2 separate regions of the Homo sapiens genome follow, and region 2 is linked to region 1. Evidence: fine-mapped expression QTL. A gene starts in region 1. The other region holds a variant in brackets. All regions are shown on one strand. Distances are from middle to middle.

Region 1 (10,622 bases):
CTTGTAATCCCAGCTACTCGGGAGGCTGAGGCAGGAGAATTGCTTGAATCTGGGAGGCGGAGGTTGCAGTGAGCCAAGATGGCACCATTGCACTTCAGCCTGGACAACAAGAGCAAAGCTCCATCTCAAAAAAAAATACAAAAAATTAGCCGTGCATGGTAGCACGCGCCTGTAGTCCTAGCTACTTGGGAGGCTGAGGCTGGAGAATTGCTTGAACCCAGGAGGCAGAGGTTGCAGTGAGCCAAGATTGCACCACTGCACTCCAGCCTGGGCAACAGAGTGAGACTCCATCTCAAAAACAAACAAACAAACAAACAAAAAAACTCCTTGGTTGTTGAAGGTAGCTTGGTAATTTAAAACAACAACAACAACAACAACATTAAGTTTGTTGCTTTGTAAAGACTTGATAATGTTTTTTTAAAACTGTTTTAGGCCGGGGGCAGTGGCTCACACCTGTAACCCCAGCACTTTGGGAGGCCAAGGCGGGCGGATCACTTGAGCTCAGGAGTTCAAGACCAGCCTGGCCAACATGGTGAAACCCTGTCTCTACTAAAAATACAAAAATTAGCTGGGCATGGTAGTAGTCCCAGCTGTAGTCCCAGCTATTCAGGAGGCTGAGGCACAAGAATCCCTTGAACCTAGGACTGGAGGTTGCAGTGAGCTGAGATCATGCCACTGCATTCCAGCCTAGGTGACAGAGCTAGATTCTGTTTAAAAAATACTGCTTTAATAGTATGTATCGGCAAGAAAAATGCAAAATATTAGGGAAAAGATCTAAAAAAATATAAACCCCAGTTGATGTTTTGCTCTTAGATTGCTTTTTTAGCCTAAGTAAAGATTTGCCTTGCTTTAAAGAAACTGTGCCTTTTGGTTACAGTTTATTACAAGATAGCCAAGGTCCTTGTAATAATAAGTGGACTAATAAAGAGAAGGTGAATTTTAATGTATGTTTATATATTTTAGTTAAAATAAAATGTAGGTCTTTTGTGTATTTTTATTTTATTTATTTATTTATTTAGAGATGGAGTTTCGCTCTTGTTGCCCAGGCTGGAGTGCAATGGCACGATCTCCACTCACTGCAACCTCCACCTGCTGGGTTTAAGCGATTCTCCTGCCTCAGCCTTCCGAGTAGCTGGGATTACAGGCATGCACCACCACGCCCAGGTAATTTTTTGTATTTTTAGTAGAAACAGGGCTTCACCATGTTAGCCAGGCTGGTCTCAAACTCTTGACCTCAGGTGATCCGCCCGCCACAGCCTCCTAAAGTGCTAGGATCACAGGCGTGAGCTGCTGTGCCTGGCTTTTTTTTTTTTTTTTTTTTTTTTTTTTTTCGAGACAGAGTCTTGCTCAGTCATCCAAGCTGGAATGCGGTGGCACTATCTGGTCTCACTGCAAGCCCCGCCTCCCGGGTTCACTCCATTCTCCTGCCTCAGGCTCCCGAGTAGCTGGGACTACAGGGGCCCACCACCACATCCGGCTAATTTTTTGTATTTTTTTTTAGTAGAGCCACCGCACCTGGCTTTTTTTTTTTTTTTTAACTGAGACAGGGTTTTGCTCTGTCTCTCAGGCTGAAGTACAGTGGCACAATCCTAGCTCAAGCAGTTAGAATAGGATTTTTGAACATAATTAAGCACAATAAAATAGGTAAAATAAAATACAGTATTTTCCTTGAATTTTTATGTTAAGTATACATATGTATATGTGTGTGTGTATATATATATATTTGTGTATTTGTGTGTGTGTTTCTTTTTTTAGAGCCAGGGTCTCACTTTCTGGTCCAGGGTAGGAGACCACGCAGCATGATCACGGCTACCCTTGTCCAGGGTAGGAGGTCCAGTAGCATAATCACAGCTCACTGCAGCCTTGACTTGCTGGGCTTGAGCAATCCTCCCACCTCTGCCTCTTGAGTAGCTGGGACTACAGACACCCAACACCATGCCCAGCTAGTTTTATTTGCTGTAGACACGAGGTCTCCCTATGTCTCCCAGGCTGGTCTCAAGCAATCCTCCGCCTTGGCCTCCCAGAATGGTGGATGACAGGTATGAGCCCCCACGTCTGGCCTTATTTTTAAGATGATTGGCAAGTCACAGCACTATAAAGTCCATCCTTTATTCCACTGATATAAACAATAGTCTTTTTTTTTTTAATGATGGGGTCTCACTCTGTCACCCAGGCAAAAGTGCAATGGTTCGATCATAACTCACTGCAGCCTCAACCTCCCGGGCTCAAGAGATCCTCCTATTGCAGCCTCCCAAGTAGCTGGGACTACATGCGCATGCCACTATGCCTGACTAATTTTTTTTGTTTTTTATAGAGATGGGGAGGGGGTCTCACTTTGTTGCCCAGGCTGGTCTCGAACTCCTGAGCTCAAGTGATCCTCCTGCCTCAGCTTCCCAAAGTGCTAGGATTACAGGTGTGAGCCACTGTGCCTGGCCAAAACTTTATTTCTCATAGAAATACAATATATCAGCAGCATTTGAAATGAAAGATAATCAGCAAAACAAAACTTTCTTACAGAATTTAGAAGGAAGGTTGATTTGTTTTAGAATGGTACCACCTCGGTTACAATTTGAAAAGAATCCTGTGAATGATATAAGACTGTTGTTCAAAAGAAAAATTGATAAGACTTGGGAGCTTCCTGGATATGGCAGGGTCAAGTAACTAGGTTTTTCACTCTGATGCCTAGAAAAATGATGGTAACTTAAGAAATGAGAAAAATCAGGAAAGAGAACTCACTTGACAACAAATGTACTTAGCTTGGTTTTGGACTTCAGTAAGTCCAGTAACTTAAGGTGACAGTGAGACCTTTAAGCAGAAATATCTAGCAAACAACTGATCAATCTCTGCTTGAACATGGAGAAGTCAGGGCTGGGGCTGTAGATCTAGAAATTATCATCAAGAAAGTCCCAGTTGAAGCTGCAGAAGTGCTTAGAATACAATAGCACAGGGTAAGTGACTAATTAAGATGCATCAACAATGTCTCCATGAATAAGTCTGTGGCTTTCAAATGGAAAATCAATCTGAAGGCCTTCCCTTGGAATGGAGGAGTTGGGGTGTTGGCCATACAGTACAGACTGGTCAAGCATGTTTGCAGACTATTATGTAAGGAGGCTGGGCCAGGAGAAAGTAGGAAGCTTTCTTTTAAGGGTATTAATCCTTCTCCTTTAAAGTCACAGCATATATAATTCATGGGTATTACCTGGGGGATGACAGCTCAGCCAGGCCTCCCCTTCATCCTTCCTACGAAGAAAGACAAAAGCCTAATTAGGCTTACCCAAAGTTGAATAGGATCCCATAGTTACAAGGGAAGAAAGAAGGTCATGTAACCTCCAGCTTGGTCATAGTACTTAGACATGAGATAGTCCAACCTCTCATCGAGTATAGATCATTCTAAGACAGACAAACTTTATTTGTTCAAGAAATATTTGTGGATTAACTATTTAATGAATAGATATCTGTTGGTTAAATTAATGCTCATCCATCAACAGTGAGCTCACTTTGAAAAATCAAGGTTATTTAATTATTTATCAGGATTATTGTAAACCAAGCCCTGTGCTAAGCACTTTCCATACACAATCATTAACCCTCACAATAACCAAACAAGATTCCTTTTATTATTTTAGCACCTGCCCAATCATCCAAATCCTGATCTCTTCACCCTAGCACTTTTAGGGTATAATGGAAAGGGTCTATGCATTTAAGACAGAAAGATCTAGGTTGACAGCAACCCTCTATCATTTGACGAGATGCATGATCTTGGGCAAATTAAGCCTTCTGATTCTGGTGCTGTATTTTCTCATAGGTAGCTAGTGGCACTTCATGTTATTGTTCTTTATTACTTATCACATTCTGTGTACTAGCAACTAGTCTGTATTTTAGCCCACCTAAATTAAGTAAGGTATAAATTTAGTAAGGTGTAAATTTCTTAAATGCAGAAGGCTATGTTTCATTCATCTTCACCATTGTTTCAATTTGAAAAACCCTTATTAGTAGTAGCAGTTGCCAAATATAGCACTGCTATATTCATCCTGAAGCCTAGAGAAATAACTGGAATAGTATAAGATCAATAAATGTTAGATGAATGAATAGTTTGCTGTGTATTCCTAATTAAGACGTCAGCTTTTCTTCTTTTTTGAGATGAGTATCGCTCTGTCACCCAGGCTGGAGTGCAGTGGTGCAATCTCGGCTCACTGCAACCTCCACCTCCTGGGTTCAACCGATTCTCCTGCCTCAGCCTCCCGAGTAGCTGGGATTATAGGCGCCCACCACCAAGCCCGACTAATTTCTGTATTTTTAGTAGAGACGGAGTTTCACCATGTTGGTCAGGCTGGTCTCGAACTTCTGACCTCAACTGATCCACCAATCTCAGTTTTCCAAAGTGCTGGGATTACAGGCATGAGCCACTGCGCCTGGCCTGGATGTCAGCTTCTTGAAGAGCAGGAACCATCACTTATATTTAGAGTATACATCTGAGCTCCACCAAGCATCCAGTATGGGGCCTGGACACAGTATTAGTTTCCTTAATAGTATCGTCCAGTATGCCTAATATAGCATTAGGGGCCTAGGAGAATACAAAGGTTCCATCACATACACAAAGTGGTGGTGAGTACAGAGACTTCTGGAAGTAACTGACGACTAATCAATATTTGCTAAATGACTGCTTGGCCAAAAGCCTTCCTGCCTCCCAGTATCCCTGTCTTTCTCCAACTCACTGATACTAGTTCTGACGCGGGGATCACACAGCTCATGTGCTCCCTTGGCCTAGGGATAGCTTTTCAGAGAATGACCATACGGGTTTGATACTTCTTTTTCCGGACCCTGTTCCCTCCATATCCCTCGACAATTGACGAAGTAACCCCTATTGATATCCTGGACCAGGCATGGCTCTCCTTGACGCAAAGCAACATCCACTACCCGCCTCCTCTGACTCTGTTCTGGGCCTGGATTCACCTGAGGGCTTGCGCCCAGTCGCTCTGAATCCTCAAAGGCGCCGCCATCTCGACCCCGCCTCCACCAGCCCACCTCTTCCGCCCCTTCCCGGAAGTGAGTCCCCGAGAAGCGTGCGGCGAGGACAGAGGTGGGCTCAACACCAAGAGGCCACCAATGAAAACGTGACTTTTTCACATTCCCCGCCCCTTCCGTGTGCACGCTCCCCACGAGGGGCTGGTTCCTGAAAGGATGTACAGAGGATCCCCAACCGCCTGCGAAACCCAAGCCGCCGCGTAGGAGCGTGCGTTCGGGCCCTCTTCTCCCACCTGTTCGGTGAGCATCGCGTACCGCGTTCTTCAGGAGGCGTTGCGGGCACAACGGGGCTGCGATCAGCGGCCGCGCGCGCGCATGCGTCCTCAAAGTTCAAAGTCCTCGATACGCCTGAGGCGCCTCAGGCCTCGTGGCTGCCAGCATTTTTCTGCTTTAAGATCCTTTCCATGACTTCCTTGTTTAGGCCAGCCTCCACGATCCAGCTGCCAACCATCTAGCCTACCCTGATCTCTGAGCAGGGGTCGTCGTCATTTTACTCCAGAGGAGACTGAAGCCAAAAGGTGGTGAGAGGAGAGTACAGCAGCATTTACTGAGTCCTATAGTAGCCCAAGCGCTTTTCATTCGTTATATTAATCTTCATTCTAATTGTGCGAATTAAATATTATTAATGGGAAAACTAAAATGAAAAAGATTACATAGTAAGGCGTAGTGCTGGGATTTGAACACGGATCTCTTGGTTTAGGATCAAGGCACTTTCTATTCCACTGTTCTTTCTCTAAATTATTTGCTCCTGGCCCTATTTAAAGAGTTAACAGTGTATTTAGGAAGAGAAAACTATCATTTATTGAACTCTTTAGACATACCAGCCTCCTTACAAACCTTACCTTTTTTTTTTTCTTTTTTTTTTTTTTTGAGACAGGGTCTCCCGCTGTAACCCAGGCTGGAATGCAGTGGCGTGATCACGGCTCACAGTGTTGCCCAGGCTGGGCGCAAACCATCCTCCCGCCTCAGCCTCCCAGTGTTGGGATTACAGGCGTGAGCCATGGCACCCGGCTTCATCTCTGTGCTTCCAGAGAGGTTATTAAATGATGTGTCCAAGGGCACCAAATGAGGCAGTGACAAAGCTAGGTCCAAGTCTGTTTCAAAGCCCATTTTCTCCCTCTTGCTTAAGTTATACCGCCTCCAAGGCAAATGAGTTGTGTAAAGTGCCTAACTCCCTCTTGTGATTCCCCATTGCCCTCAGAATAAAAAGTCTTAAACTCCCTACTATGTCCTACAAAGCCTTGTGATGATCACTTACTTATATCGCCAGTTTAATATTGTCTTATTCTCACACTGTATTCTCCCATCACTGAACTTTTTTTTTTTTTTGCTCTCATGTGTCAGATTCTATCTCAACCACCTGCTCTTCCATTGACCAAAAATAGTTTTCCCATCTCTGGCTAACTTCTGTTCCATCTGTCAAGTTTCAGCTTGGAAATCACTTCCTCTAGGAAGCCTTCCCTGCCTATTCCTGCCCTTGTCTGGATTAGGCATCCCTCCACTGTGGTCCCAGTCTTTGCTATCTGTACACTGTGTAGTAAACTGCCCTGTTTCCTTGTCTAGGTTGTAAACTCCATGAAGCCAGGAACTTAACTGACTTAGACAGTCTTGAATCCTCAGCACTAGCATAGTGCCTGGTACATGATAGGTACTTAATCATTTGTTGAGTGAATGAGAGACACAGTTAAGGCAATAAGGAGTCCTAGTTGCTTTACAGCCCATCATGGTGAAATTTTTGCAAAGGCTGAAGTCATTTCTCTTCAAACCTTAAGTTCCTTCTGTATGCTGCTTTCTGCTGAGTGTTCTGATGCAGACGGGCAAGACAGTTTGGGCAAATAAATACACCTCACATTTTTGTATAGTTTACAAAGCCATCTCACCTTATAGACCCAGAGGCCAGGTTTCTGCATACTGTATGCTACAGCCACAGTGAACTCTTTCCATCCTTCCCATGTGTCAAAACCTACCCATATTTGGGCACTCTTTCACTTTGTTTGTTTGTTTGTTTTGGAGATGGAGTCTCACTCTGTCACCCAGGCTGGAGTGCAGTGGCACGATCTTTGGCTCACTACAACCTCCGCCCCTTGGGTTAAAGCGATTCTCCTGCCTGAGCCTCCCGAGTAGCTGGGATTACAGGTGCCTGCCATCACGCCCGCCTAATTTTTGTATTTTTAGTAGAGACGGGGTTTCATCATCCCGGCCAGGCTGGTCTTGAACTTCTGACCTTATGATCCATCTGCCTCGGGCTCCCAAATTGCTGGGATTACATGTGTGAGCCACTGCACCCAGCCTCTTTCACTTTTTAAACTTTGTTCTTCAGCATAGAATAAGGCTAGTAGGATAAAAGAAGAAAGGTTATTTATTTGAAACAGGGTCTCACTATGTCACCTAAGCTGGAGTACAGTGGCACCATCATAGCTCACTGCAGCCTTTGAACTCCTGGGCTCAAAGGATTCTCCCTCTTCAGCCTCTTGAGTACCTGGGACTACAAGTGTGTGCCACTATGCCCAGCTAATTTTTACATTTTTTTTCTTTTTTCTTTTTTTTTGAGATGGAGTTTTGCTCTTATTGCCCAGGCTGGAGTGCAATGGTGTGATCTCGGCTCTCCGCAACCTCCGCCTCCCGAGTTCAACCTCGGCTCTCCTGCTTCAGCCTCCTGAGTAGCTGGCATTACAGGCATATGCCACCACACCTTGCTAATTTTGTATTTTTAGTAGAGACGGGTTTCTCCATGTTGGTCAGGCTGATCTTGATCTCCCGACCTCAGGTGATCCGACTGCCTCAGTCTCCCAAAGTGCTGGGATTATAGGCATGAGCCACCGTATCCAGCCATTTTTAAATTTTTTTGTAGAGATGAGGTCTTGCTATTACCCCTGCTGGTCTCAAATTCCTGGGCTCAAGGGATCTTCCTGCCTCAGCCTCCCATAATGCTAGGATTACAGGTGTGAGCCATCGTACCTAGCTGAAAGTTTAGTTCTTTTTAGGTAGATCAGAGATAGCTTATCTAAAAAGATGACATTTCACCTAATTCATATTCCAATAGCAAAATCCACTGAGCTTATTGAATGTTATGTCAAGCATTCTCACAGTTTATCTCATTCAGTTCAAACCACTTTTCAGGCCTGCTCTCAGCCAGGCCTAGTGCTGGGGGCACAAAGGTAAATCAAGACGAACATCAGCCGGGCACAGTTGGCTCACACCTGTAATCCCAGCATTTTGGGTGGCTAAGGCAGGAGGATCACTTGAGCCCAGGAGTTTGAGACCATGCTGAGCAACATGGAAAAACCTTGTCTCTATTAAAGAATCAAAAAAATTAGCTGAGTGGTGATGCACACCTGTAGTCCCAGCTACTCTGGCCAGGGAGGGACTGAGGGGGAAGGATTGCTTGATCCCTAAAGATGGAGGCTACAGTGAGCCTGGGCAACAAAGCAAGACACCCTCAAAAAAAAAAAAAAAAAAACAAGCATCTGTCTTCAAGCTTAGAGTCTCCCACGGGAGACAGACACATTAAACAGGCTAAATGGTGCAGTCTGGTCAGTGCTATTTATAATTTAGGAACCTTACATATTATATCCCTACTCTAACCTGTTAATGTTCTATAGACTCCCCATCCCCAGGATGTCAACCTCAGTCCCTCAAGGCCATACCTGGACCCAACGGGTGAAGAAAGACGATGAGGAGGAGGACCCGCTGGACCAGCTGATCTCCCGCTCTGGCTGTGCTGCCTCCCACTTTGCAGTGCAGGAGTGCATGGCCCAGCACCAGGACTGGCGGCAATGCCAGCCACAGGTGCAGGCGTTCAAGGATTGCATGAGTGAACAGCAGGCGAGGCGGCAAGAGGAGCTGCAGAGGAGGCAAGAACAAGCCGGTGCCCACCACTGAGACCCCAAACCACCTATCCCCAGTAGATGGCCCTGCCAAGACCAGCACCCAGCAAGATTATAGAGGAAGAAATCCTAAATGCTGGTGTGGGAGGTCTAAAACATGGGGAGAGTTTTTGGATCTGGAGTTGAGAGCCATGGGTTTGGACATGACTGGCACAAACAGCTGTCATATGTTCATGGTCAGATGTCATACATTCTCAGCTGTCTTGTTCCACCAGTATTTACCAGGAAAACAAAGAATGTGTTAAGGGATGCTCCCCCACCCCACATCTTAAGTCAGTGTGCCAAGTACTGAGATGATTTTAGGGACATTTTATTTTAAATTAAATTTACAATCTAATGGTAAATTGATTACCTAATTAGTGCCTTTCTCTTTCATCACTTGTTCTGGATGTTTCAATCAGTTTAGTGGAAGGAAAAATAAATGGGGAAACTTTTTATTCAAATATGTTTTTCTTTTGTTTTTTTGAGACAGGGTCTCTGTTGCCCAGGCTGGAGTGTGGTGGTGGAGTCAGGGCTCACTGCATCCTCAGTGGGCTCAGGCCATCCTCCCACCTCAGCCTCTCAAGTAGCTGGAACCACAGGTGTGTGCATCACCACACCCAGCTAATTATTCAAACATTGAGTACCTATTAAATGCCAGATTCTGTTGAATTAACAGATACCAAGTCTGGCTTTAACTTGCTCCCAACCCAACAAACACAAAGTTGGGCTAACATTTTTAGAGTATATTTAACACTAAAATACAGATTTTCAGCTTTTGAAAAGGGGAGAAGATGTCAACATTGATTTTTATTCCCTCTTAACAATTTGCTGGAGCTGAATAATAACTCCCCCTTTAAGTAGGTTGTGTTTTCCCATTCAAAACAGTTGCATATCATTTCTCATTTTTCTTCAACAAAACGACTCTTCCATTCTATTCTTTTTTTTTTTTTTGAAATGGAGTCTTGCTCTGTTGCCCAGGCTGGCGTGCAGTAGCGCAGTCTCGGCTCACTGCAACCTCTGCCTCCCAAATTCAAGTGATCCCCCTGCCTCAGCCTCCCAAGTAGCTGGGACTACAGGCAAGCACCACCACACCCGGCTAATTTTTGTATTTTTAGTAGAGAATGGGGTTTCACCATGTTGGCCAGGCTGGTCTCAAACTCCTGACCTCAAGTGATCCACCCTCCTCAGCCTCCCAAAGTGCTGGGATTAAAGGCGTGAGCCACCACACCCAGACAATAACAAATATTTCTTCAGGATCTATTAGAAGCCCAAATCTGAGGTATAGTAGGCCTTAAAATTTACTTTGAACCTTCATGCCAGTATTTGGGGAAGAAGTAAAGAGAAAAGGGGAGAAGGTAGGAGTTTAAAGAACAATCCTATTTCTGGCTGAAGGGGATAACCAGCAAATTATAAAGACAAATCGCTATGTGTGTGTGCTCAGTGCTGATTCATCAAAGGAAACAAGCAGTGTGCACTGGAGTTTTCAGCAAGAATCTCAAAGAAGAGAAGAGATTAGTTGAGTTGAACTTTTAAAGCTGAAGTAGGCCAGGCATGGTGGCTCACTTGAGGTCGGGAGTTCAAGACCAGGCTGGCCAACATGGCAAAACCCCATCTCTGCTAAAAATACAAAAAAATTAGCCAGGCATGGTGGCGCATGCTGAGTGTAATCCCAGCTACTTGGGAGGCTGAGGCAGGAGAATCACTTGAACCTGGGAGGTGGAGATGGCAGTG
Region 2 (10,622 bases), 220 kb after region 1:
CCTCTAATGCCTTTGCTCATACCATTTCTTCCATCTGTTCTCTGTGTGGAAAGCTCTCCCAACTTTTTCAGATTGGCAAACTCCTACTCATTTTTCAAGGTTCAAAATAAATTTCCACTTCCTGTCCCAAAGCTTTCCCTAGTTCCCTTGGCAGAGTTGCATGCCTCCTCTTCAGAGCTCCAACTGCACCACGTTCCTCTGTAACTTCATTCAATCATTGCTGTTTTTATACATGTCTCACCTCTAAGTTGGTGTCTCTGGAACTGTGGCTGAGGTGAATACCTGATATTTTTGCCAACCAGCTTTCATCTATTCATCCTACTTCTGGGAACAGTGCCCTGAATTTCCTCTGGGACACCATCCCACCCCTGCTGTAAGCCCTGTTATTTTAGACCATCCGTTTCCAGACCACTGGGGTTGATGCAGGGATGGCCACAGGACCCAATTTAGACTGATGTCTACCAGGCCCAGGACTTTCAGTCATACTGTTAGAGGAAGAGAAATTCTCTTGGTTGGACTTGAACTCAGGAGGGCATTAGCCTGGAGCTGCTGAACATCACTGCAGCTTCCAAATGAGCCAGCCCTGCAGGTGTAAAGATGGAAACAAAGCAAAGTCTAAGTGACACTCTTTGAGCCCCTGGATCACACAGCTCTTGGACTTCTCAGTTATGTGGCTTAACCTTTTCCCTTTGGCTTAAATCAGTTTGAACAGGGAGTTTCTATCTGACAGCCCCAAGAAGCCTGATGCAGGATGATGGTGTTTCCTTTCCTGACCACCTGGTTTTCTATGAGAACAATTCATTGATTCAACTCTAGAAGGATGGGAACCTACTGGAAAAGACTCCAACATGAACAGGATTCTCAGAAAGCAGGCAGGACCTGGCTTGGATCATCCATCAGCTCAGACAACAGAGACTCCAAGGCAGTCCCTCCTCTTGAGCCCTCAGGAATGGTCAACTTCAACCAGCTACCTTAAGTGTAGGGAAAACAAAATCCAGAAAGGTTAAGTGACTTGCCCCAAATGACTCAGCTAATATGCTGTCACCAGTTCCAACTGATCTCAGAATCCACACTCTTTTTCACTAGACCAGTGAAGGCACTAGTAGCTGCTGGATCATGGAGAGGGAAACAGGGCCTTCTGGGGGAACAAAGCAAGCCACAGTTACTGCTAGAGCCAACCAAATCTTTATTAGTCTCGGCAGCAGAACTAATGGAGCCCCCATTTACAGGGGAGCTTTAGTGGGCTAGTCTGGCTACCAGGCAGGGATGTTAGCATTTCTATTGGTGATTGGGATAGAAAGGGGGAAGAGACTGGAAGGGAACCAAAGGGGGAGACTGGTGGACCACCTGAGGGCAGGCACAGATGGGGCTTCCTGGGCTGGTGTAGAGGTGGATCAGGCCCCAGAGGAGAACACTGCCATCTTATTCAGAATGAAGGATGAGACAAAGCCTGAGAGGGTGACAGTCACAGCTACAAAGAGAGGGCCGAGCTCCTGGTGTGAGAGGCATTTCTGGACGGAGGCAGCTTTCTAGGGCTGGAAGTCTCAAATAGAACTCACCTGTTCCCCAACCAGGGGTCCCCAGGTTCAGCTCAATTGTTATCATGGGTACCAGCCAGGAAGCTGTTTGTGGGAAGGATGGGACTTGACTCAGGAGTGTTTTAGGTATGGACATGTGTCAGTATTCACAAAACAGGCAATATATTCATTATAGATGCAATCATGAAACTTCCCTCCAGAGAAGGCTCACATCTCCCCTTTCACCTAGGAAGCTCCTTAGCTTGAAGGCCCACCACGGTCTGATCCCAGCCTCCACCCCAGCCCAAATGAACTCCCATTTAATTCCTTGGACATGCCATGACGTTCACGGCTCTGCATACTTGCCAATAACTGTTCTTCCAGCCTACCTGTCTTGCTCCCTGCCCCACCTGTCCTTGTCAAAGGACTGATAACTCTTCAGCTTTGTCAAGTCCTTGTTTACTCCTGTTCTCCCCACCAGGACTCGAGCTCCCTAAGGAGAGAGCAGAGAGCCCGATTCATGTTGTGTCTACAGCGCCTGGGGAACTCGAAGCCAAATGAAGTCGTATTTGCTGTGCCCTGTTGTGTTTAGAGGAAATGTATCCATAAATGTCTATAACAGATTTTGGGGGTGTCTAGTGGTAGATGTGAAGACTTCAAGCGATGTTTGTACCTGTGATGATAGCTTCTTCCCATGTGGGGATTAAGGGTAGGGAGTGGGGGGAATGGTCCAAACCCGGAAGGAGCTAATGGAGAGGATAGGGCCAAAGTGGGACAGGGCTTGGATGGTAGAGGATGGGGTCCAGGAGGAAGAGGAGTCTAGCAATCCAAGCGCAGGGGTCAGTGCTCCGAGTCCCAGGGCTCAGAACCAGCAGGGCGACCACATGAGCGAGCCCAGCGCCGCCCCAGTGGCGGCTCCCGCAAGCATGCCCATGGCCAGAGGGGCGCCGGCGCTGTAGCAGGGATCCTCCCGCACTATCACGTGCGTCACGCCAGGGCCTGCAGAGGGAGACAGCCCATGAGGATCAGCGACTTAGGAGGGAGTAGAGTGATCTTCGTACCCTTCCTGCATCACTCCAGCCCAACCCAGTGTAAGGCGCCGAACCCACTCTCCTGCTCCCCAGTCAAAGAACAGATCTAGACGCGGGAAGAGCTCCACCCTACGGCTCCCAGGCCTTGGATCGGCTACGGATGTCCCGGAACCTACGGGTCCGCTACGGCAGGCTAGGGCGGAGCAGCGAGGAAACCCTGAGATCGCTAAGCACAACCACCAGGCGCCTAACGATGGGCATTCCCAACCGCCAGGCCCCAGAGCGGGGAGGAGGCAGCATTCCCGCAGTAGCCACCAGGGGCCGCTACCGGCTCAGGAATGGGTATTGCCGACCGCAGGGCTGAGGAGCCATCCCAGAAGGGTGAGGTCAGCTCGAGACGAACGCTGGTTCCAGAGCTCTCCCAGTCTCAGGATGGAGAGGGGCTTGCGGAGAGTTCTGCCTGGGAAAATCCGTGCACGCTAAAAGGATGAAGCCTGGTCCGGACTTACGGACCGTGGGCTGGGCCTGGCGCTGAATCGGTGCTGGATCGAGGCAAGCCCCGGGGCACGCTGGAGACTTACCTGCGTAGGGCGGTCCGTAGTAGCTGCGGACATACGTGGCCTCGTGTGCATTGGGGGGCACCACCTCGTAGTAGTCTTGGTACGGGCTGTAGACGCGCACCTGGGGAATCCAACCATGTCAGGTGCCCAGGAACTCCCTGGCCCGGATTTGGTCCCCTACCCCCACGCCTGGCACAGGCCTCTCTGGGATCCATGGAGCCACCTCCCCAAGTTTAGAAATGGGCCTCCAGCCACTAGCAAGCTCTTGGAGAAAGGCCCTGCCCTCCCCACAAGGTCCACGGTCCTCTAAAACTTCTGCCCTACATCCAGCTCCCAGTGACACCCATTCTCCAACTCTGGCCTCCCACCTAGCTCAAAAAATTCTCTATGGCTCCCAATTTCTCCTTATAGGTAGTCTAATATTTGCTAGCAGCTCTACAATAATGCCACTTGAAAGACCCAGCTCTACTAGTCACAAGGAGGGGAACATGGCCAAGCCCCAGGCCCAGGAAATAAACAGGGGTTGGGGAGGAAGGAAGGGAAAGGAAGGATAGGGATGAGAAGTAACTAAAATACAGTTATGCGTCTTTTAAACAACAGGGATACAGTCTGAGAAATGCGTCCTTAGGCAATTTTAGTTATGTGAATATCATAGAGTGTACTTACAAACAAACCTAGGTGGCACACACCTAGAGTATATGGTATATCCTATTGCTCCAAGCCAACAAACCTGTTCAGCAGGCTACTGCCCTGAATACTGTAGGCAATTGTAACACAATGGTATTTGTTATCTAACTAATCATATATAAATGTAGAAAATGTAATGCATTGCCCTACGACATTATCATGGCTACAACATCACTAGGTGATAGGAAATTTTCAGCTCCATTATAATCTTATGGAACCACCTTTGTATATGTGGTCCATCATTGACCCAAAATTGTTAGGCTGCACTAGGCTGTAACGATTATTGAGCACCTACTATGTACCAGGTCCTGAAGGAAGTGATCACGTGTGTTACACCACCTCTAATCCTTAAAGCAGGTATTAGCTCCACATGACCATAGGGTTGGGGACTGAGGCTCAGAGAATGGTCAGTGTTCTCTCTGGAATGCATTCCCTGCCCTCCCCTCTCTCCCATTAGATTTCTGCCAACCCTTCAAAGCCTAGCTCAACGGTCACCCACTCCACTCCAGGAAGCTCTCCTGGTCTCAGGAAGAATTTTTTTTTTCCCTGAATTCTGTGGATCTTGCTTGTGCCTCTTGTTGCTATCCTTTCTCCTGGCCTTTCTTGCAGCCCAAATGTGAGCTGCTTGTAGACAAGGACTCTGATTTGTTTGTGTCACCAGCAGGGCCAAGTGCATACCAGGAACCAAGAACTATGTGCTGAATTAAATGGAAACTCCAAACCCCTCATTTTACCCATGGGGGAGCAGACCTGGAGAGGGGTCAGGATCCCCTTCTCTTCTGGATCTTTCCTCTTAGCCCCATTCCACCCTGTATCTCTCTCTAACTGGGATTCACACCTGAACAGTCCAGCTCCCCTTAGAAGTCCAGGTGTCTCAAACTCCACTCATCTCAAGATGATTGCAACATTTCTCCATCTGCTAAAACTGTTGCTTTTCCCATAAATCTTTTTTTTTTTTTTGAGACAGAGTTTCATTCTTGTTGTCCAGGCTGGAGTGCAATGGCATGGTATCAGCTCACTGCAACCTCCGCCTCCCGGGTTCAAGCGATTCTCCTGCCTCAGCCTCCCAGGTAACTGAGATTACAGGTTCCTGCCACCACGCCTGGCTAATTTTTCTGTATTTTTAGTAGAGACAGGGTTTCACCATGTTCGCCAGGCTGGTCTTGAACTCCTGACCTCAGGTGATCTGCCCGCCTTGGCCTCCCAAAGTACCCAGCCCCATAAATGCTTCTCTCAGTACATGCCATCACCATGCACTCAAATCAAGAAAGGCTAGGCACAGCGGCTTATGCCTGTAATCCCAGCACTTTGGGAGGCTGAGGCGGGAGGATTGCTTGAATGCAGGAGTTCAAGACCAGTCTGGGCAACATGGCAAGAACCTGTCTCTACAAAAAATTAAAAAATTAGCTGAGTGTGGTGATGCATGCCCGTGGGCCCAGCTATTTGGGAAACTGAGGCAGAAGGATCACTTGAGCCCAGGAGATCGAGGCTGCAGTGAGCAGTGTTTGCACCACTGCACTCCAGCCTGGGCAACAGAGGGAGATCCTGTCTCAAAAAAAGAAAGAAAGAAAGAAAAAGAAAGAAGGAAAGAAAGCAGGTTGTTGCCCTTGTCTTCACACATCTGCTTTCCACACATCAGCCACCAGGTCT[C/T]GTGATTTTATCTTCTAAATGTGTTCTTCTGCCCATTCTTTTGGCCAATTCCAAGATAATAGGCCACTGGTTTTAGCAACTTGGAAGTTGTGAGTGACCTTGAAAAAACTTTTCAGAGGAGTTGCTGAGTAGGAAAAGCCAAGCTATGGAGGGTTGAAGAAAGGCTGAGAGGTGAAGGATGCAATCCCCATGTCATGACATCTCTTTCAAGAAGTTTGGTGGTAAGGGGAAGGTCTCCAAGCACACCTTGTGATTTCAAATCTCCATGCCATTTTCCTTTGCTAGGGATATGCTTCTCACCTCATTCAACCTGTCTTTCAGACTCAACTCAAGCATCACTCTCCCTGAACCTCAGGTTCTGTTGGGGTCCCATCTGGACACTCACAGCCCTTGGATGTCCCTGCATCACAGCACCGATCATGCTGTCTTCACGTTGTTTCCCTGTGTCTCTCCCATCAGACTTGGAGATGCCTTTGAGGGCAGAGACTGGGTCTAATCAGATCTGACTGGAACATGGCAGGTACCTAATAAATGTTTATTGAATTCATTCCAGTGAATCAAATACAGGGCCAGACTGGAACTAAGGTTGCCCAACTCTGAGTTCAGTTTCAAGTCAGGGAAAACATATAGTCCCAAGACAATGCAAGAGGCTCAGACAAGCAATGTCGTAAGTCAGTGAACTCTACGGTGCTCCCTCCCCATCAGTGATCCAATAGGGATTTCTGGTAGGCAGTGCCAAGATCCAGGCTCCAGGCCCAAAAGGGGTTGGAGGGATCTAAGCTCTCAGGTCCAATTTTATTGGTGGGGAAGTTGAGGTCCACAGCCTCCACCTTGCCCTGCTGCTACACAGTGAGCCAGTGGCCTTGGGAGGCCCTGGAGAGGGTGGAGCACCCCATATCCCTCGAGGGCACCTGTTTTTACTCTCCACGTCTGGGAGGCCCAGAAGTAAACTCCTATAAGTCACCTGGCAACAAATAGGGACAGCCCAGAGACCCATGGGCAGAACCTGAGGGTTTGAACCTGCCTCTCCCTCTCCAGAGGCCCAGCTACTTTGTGGGTACAACCAGTGTTGACCAATCAGGGGGTCACATGCAAATGACTCCCCTTAGCTGAGCTGTTGTGTTATTAGGTTTACAGTCTGTTAAATCCTAGTTTTTGACATCCCCACTTTAAACAAACTTGCATCCTAGTTTGGGCATGGAAAATACCTCAGAACGATGGGCTGGGAGTCCCAGACCTGCCATTGATGAGTTGAGTGACCCTGATCAAGTTAGGTAACCTCTCCAAGCCACTGAGGATCTAACAGTGCCACATCTATACAATTTGGTGGCCCAGGCACTTCTAGGCTTAGTGATTCTGCACATCAGAGTCATCAGGAGACAATTTTTTTTTTTGAGATGGAGTCTTACTCTGTTGCCCAGGCTGGAGTGCAGTGGGGTGATCTTGGTTCACTGCAACCACGTCCGCCTCCTGAGTTCAAGCCATTCTCCTGCCTCAGCCTCCTGAGTATCTGAGATTACACCATGTCTTGCTAATTTTTGTACTTTTAGTAGAGATGGGGTTTCACCATGTTGGCTAGGCAGGTCTTGAACTCCTGACCTTGCAACCTGCCCGCCTCAGCCTCCCAAAGTTCTGGGATTATAGGTGTCAGCCACCAGGCCTGGCCAGGAGACAGGTTTAAACTACAGGTTTCCTAGGCCTAGGCCCCATGCCAGATTAAAACATCCAGAGGTGGAACATGAATACTTGTTATTAGTGCTTGTAAGTTCCTAAACAATCCTGATACATAGCCACACTGAGCACCACTGTGTAAGATGAGCTCAGAGTTGACTATAAGATCACAGGTACTCTCACTCAAGCCCCCTCCTGCCACCCACCCCATGCCAGGCCCTGTGCTGAGTTCTGGGGACAGAGAAAAGATTCAGGCCAGATCCTGCCTTCAAGAAACATTGAGGGTGAGGGGAGACAGACCTAGACTAAATTAGACTATGTAGTAGTATTGCTATAAAGGAAGTTTTTCACTCCCTCCTTCCTTCCTTTGCTCACTCAGTGAACATTCCCTGAGCCCCACTGTGTAAGAAAGGTCAGCATAGACTCCCCATCATCGAGCACTAATTGAGCATGTGCCATTTACCTAGCCTTGTGCCAAGTTCCATAGAGGCAGCGCAATCAGGCCTCATTCTTGCCTTGGAGGAAGTTCTAGGCCTCATGGAAGACTACACAGACAGGAATAAACCAGCTCTGAAACCAGGCAGAATGAAGAAAGCACTAAGCCTTGGTGCCGCTAGGCTGAGGGAGGGAATGACGATGCCTAGTGGTCTAGGAAGTCCCCACTGAGTAGGTGGCAGGCAGCCTTTGAGGTGGGCCTTACAGGATGAGCATCAGTTTGTCAGGTGAATGAGGAAACTGAGGTCTTGTCAGCAGAGGGAACAGCATGTGCGAAGGCTGGCAGAGGGAAAAGGTCTGGTGTGGCTGGGGACAGAGGGTACAGCAGAGCAGCTGGTTTGTGTCCTGTGGGTGATAGGGAGCCATGGAATGTTTGTCACAGGGAAGGGATGGACTGGGCCTGGTTTTGGAGGCTCATCCTGGTGGCCAGTATGGAGGCAGGGAGGGCCGAGCCAGCACTTACCCAGATCCGCCTCTCAACCTTACAGGGGCTCCACGAGCGGGTCACACACCTGACCTTGGAGCAAACCCGGCGGCTCCTGGGAGGGACGGTGGCTCCAGCTGGGGCCTGCTCAAGCCACAGAAACCCAAGAAGGAGGAGGGAGGGAGGGGGTGTCAGAGGCCCTCTACACCTAAAGAGACTCAAGAGCTCTTTCCAGACCCTACCAGAGCCCTCCGCCAGCTGGGCTGTGGCAGGGAGCATCCTCTTTCTCCTCAGCTCATGGTAACGGGGGAGGCTCAGAGAATGCTGATGACTGCCAAAGTTACGCAGAAAAGAAGGACAAGTAGTCTCTTTCCAGAATTAGCCCACCCTCCCCTATTTCATCCTGCTGGGGTTCCCAGTCTCCAGGGAGGACAGGGCGACTCCCTTCTGTCCTCTAGCCCACCTGGTCCGCTTCACCCCAGCCTCGTCCCTAGCTGTGCCCCCAGGCCCTGTGTTCCCAGTAAAGCTGGTGTTAGGGGCTCCTGGAGCCTCCACCTGGAGTGAGGTATGAACTCCAGCATGTCGGAGGACAAAGGGCAGGTCATTCCCACACAGGCTACAGAGAGAAGCCCATAAACAGAGGTGAACACACAAAGATAGGTAGACACAGGCACAAATACACCCCGACTCTAGTAAGCCCGGGCACAGAAGGACGTGTATATGTGGAGTAGTGGGAGGTAGAATAGAGGCCAGGGCAGAGAGAAGGGTCAGCAGAGCCACAGGAGATGGACAGGCAGAGAAGGACGAGGCCGCTTCATAGAGTCACAGAGTGCAGACAGTCACCCTTGCCTCCTTCCCTCCGCCTCTCTTTGGTGGAACTGACTTGCCCCACATAAAGAGGCTTTGGAGCTCAGAGCCAGGGTAGCCTGACCTGGGTCCCTCCACCCTGCAGACTACTGCTGTAGCCTCCTTACTCCCAGCTTTCTCCAATTCACCCGCCACTTGGAAGCCTGAGTCTGCTCCCCAAAATCTGACCACAGCCCTCGCTGCTGAATGCCCTTTATTGCTCCCTACAGGCCTCAGGGAAAGTCCATTTCTTCCAACTGGACTTTGAGGCCCATCATGAGCTGGCCCCGATGACCTCAGAGGTCATCTCTCCTGTTTCATTCGCCTCATGAATTGCTCTCCAGCCAGGCAGACTCTGGGCCCTTAGACGCATGCATATGTGCATAAGCACTTGTGCACACACACATGTGCACACATCACTTCTCTGTCTCTGCTCATGCAGCTACTTCTGCAGATAACGCCCTCCTCTCAAAATCTCACTGACCTAGGTTCCATGGTAGGCTTTTCCACTGACTTAAGAGTATAAGCTTTGGACAAGTCACCTCCCCTCTCTGAACCTCGGCTTCCTTATCTGTAAAATGGGACTAATAATACCAACCCCCACCCAGCTGCCCTGCCAGGGTTGTTGGAAGATGAAATGATGTCACTGCTGCCAGGGGCTTAGCATGATGCCTGGCACTCAGGACGTGGATGCCTGAGGAGGTTTCTAAATGCATCCAGGTCTCCCCTGCTACTTCCCAACGGACTTTCTCTATAGGTGAGAGGGGGCTCCATTGTGCCATACAGAGAAAGAGCAAGCACAGATTCTGGAGTCAGGCAGATGGGGGTGGAGGCCAAGCTGGGCTTTGGGCGGCTCTTCAAACCGCCACTTCCATCAGTCACAAGCTCTGTTGACTCCATCTCCTAAATATGTCCTGTACTCATCAGCCTGTCTCGGCCAACAAGGCCTTAATCCAGATCTCCAGTCTGTTGCCCGGACACTGTCCCAGCCTCCTAAGTGGCCTCTGGGTGTCTGCAGTTACCCTCTATAATCCATTCCCTACCTACCAGCCAGACTATCTTTTTTTTTTTCCTTTTTTCTACAACAAAATTTCATAAACTGACAGACTACCCCCTTTTTTTTACATGCCCCAACGTTACAACAATTATCTTTTTAAAAATATAAATTGAACCTGATCTGATCATGCCATCCCTCTGTTCAAAAACTTGTCATGGCTCCCTGGTGCTCTTAGCAGAAACCAACATCCTTCATACAGCCCACAAGACCTGGTCGTGCCAACCCTCCTTCCCTCCTTACCCACTCACTCCCTAAGCACCAGCCACCCCAGCTGTCCTTCTGTTCCTCAACTTGCCAAATGTCTTAACCTCTCTCAGAGCCTTGGCACATGCTGATCCCTCTGCCTGGAATGCCGTGCCCTTTACCCGATCCCCACACCTTTCACCCAGTCAATTTCTGTTTATCCTTCAGTCCTCGGTTTAAGCCTTGCCTGAACTACCACCTGGATGAAAGGGCCAGACACTGCAAATCTCTGTCAGAGCTGTTATTACTATTGAAATGGAATAATTAATTAGTTGTTCCATGTCTGGCTTCTCATTAGGCTGAGTCCAGGTGGGCAGAGCCCATATCTCCTTGGTTCACCTCTGATCCCTGGCACTTGGCACACCACCTGGCCCATAGTAGCAGCTCAGTAAATATTTGTTGTGCGGATGAATGAGCTTCAGTCTTATCATCTGCAGAGAG

What was found.
Region 2: its variant is fine-mapped to the expression of COA4 in whole blood (TOPMed, PIP above 0.99).

Annotation. Positions count from the first base shown.
Region 1 is chr11:73,871,397-73,882,018 of GRCh38, reverse strand. It overlaps COA4 (cytochrome c oxidase assembly factor 4 homolog), which reads left to right and starts at 5,173. Exons shown (of 2, transcript NM_016565.3): 1 at 5,173-5,262; 2 at 8,625-9,352. The coding sequence starts at 8,641. The coding sequence ends at 8,904. PAAF1 (proteasomal ATPase associated factor 1) reads right to left here and starts at 5,020. Exons shown (of 12, transcript NM_025155.3): 1 at 4,951-5,020; 2 at 3,200-3,240. The coding sequence starts at 4,997. RefSeq lists enhancers at 4,783-4,852, 4,873-4,922.
Region 2 is chr11:73,653,360-73,663,981 of GRCh38, reverse strand. It overlaps PLEKHB1 (pleckstrin homology domain containing B1), which reads right to left. Exons shown (of 8, transcript NM_021200.3): 6 at 8,075-8,179; 7 at 3,130-3,229; 8 at 1,163-2,516. The coding sequence ends at 2,380. Among named protein-coding and RNA genes, the nearest start is that of PLEKHB1, 12 kb to the right of the region's middle. RefSeq lists enhancers at 2,014-2,856, 2,857-3,701 and a silencer at 2,780-2,951. The variant C/T (reference allele first, on the strand shown) is at 5,446.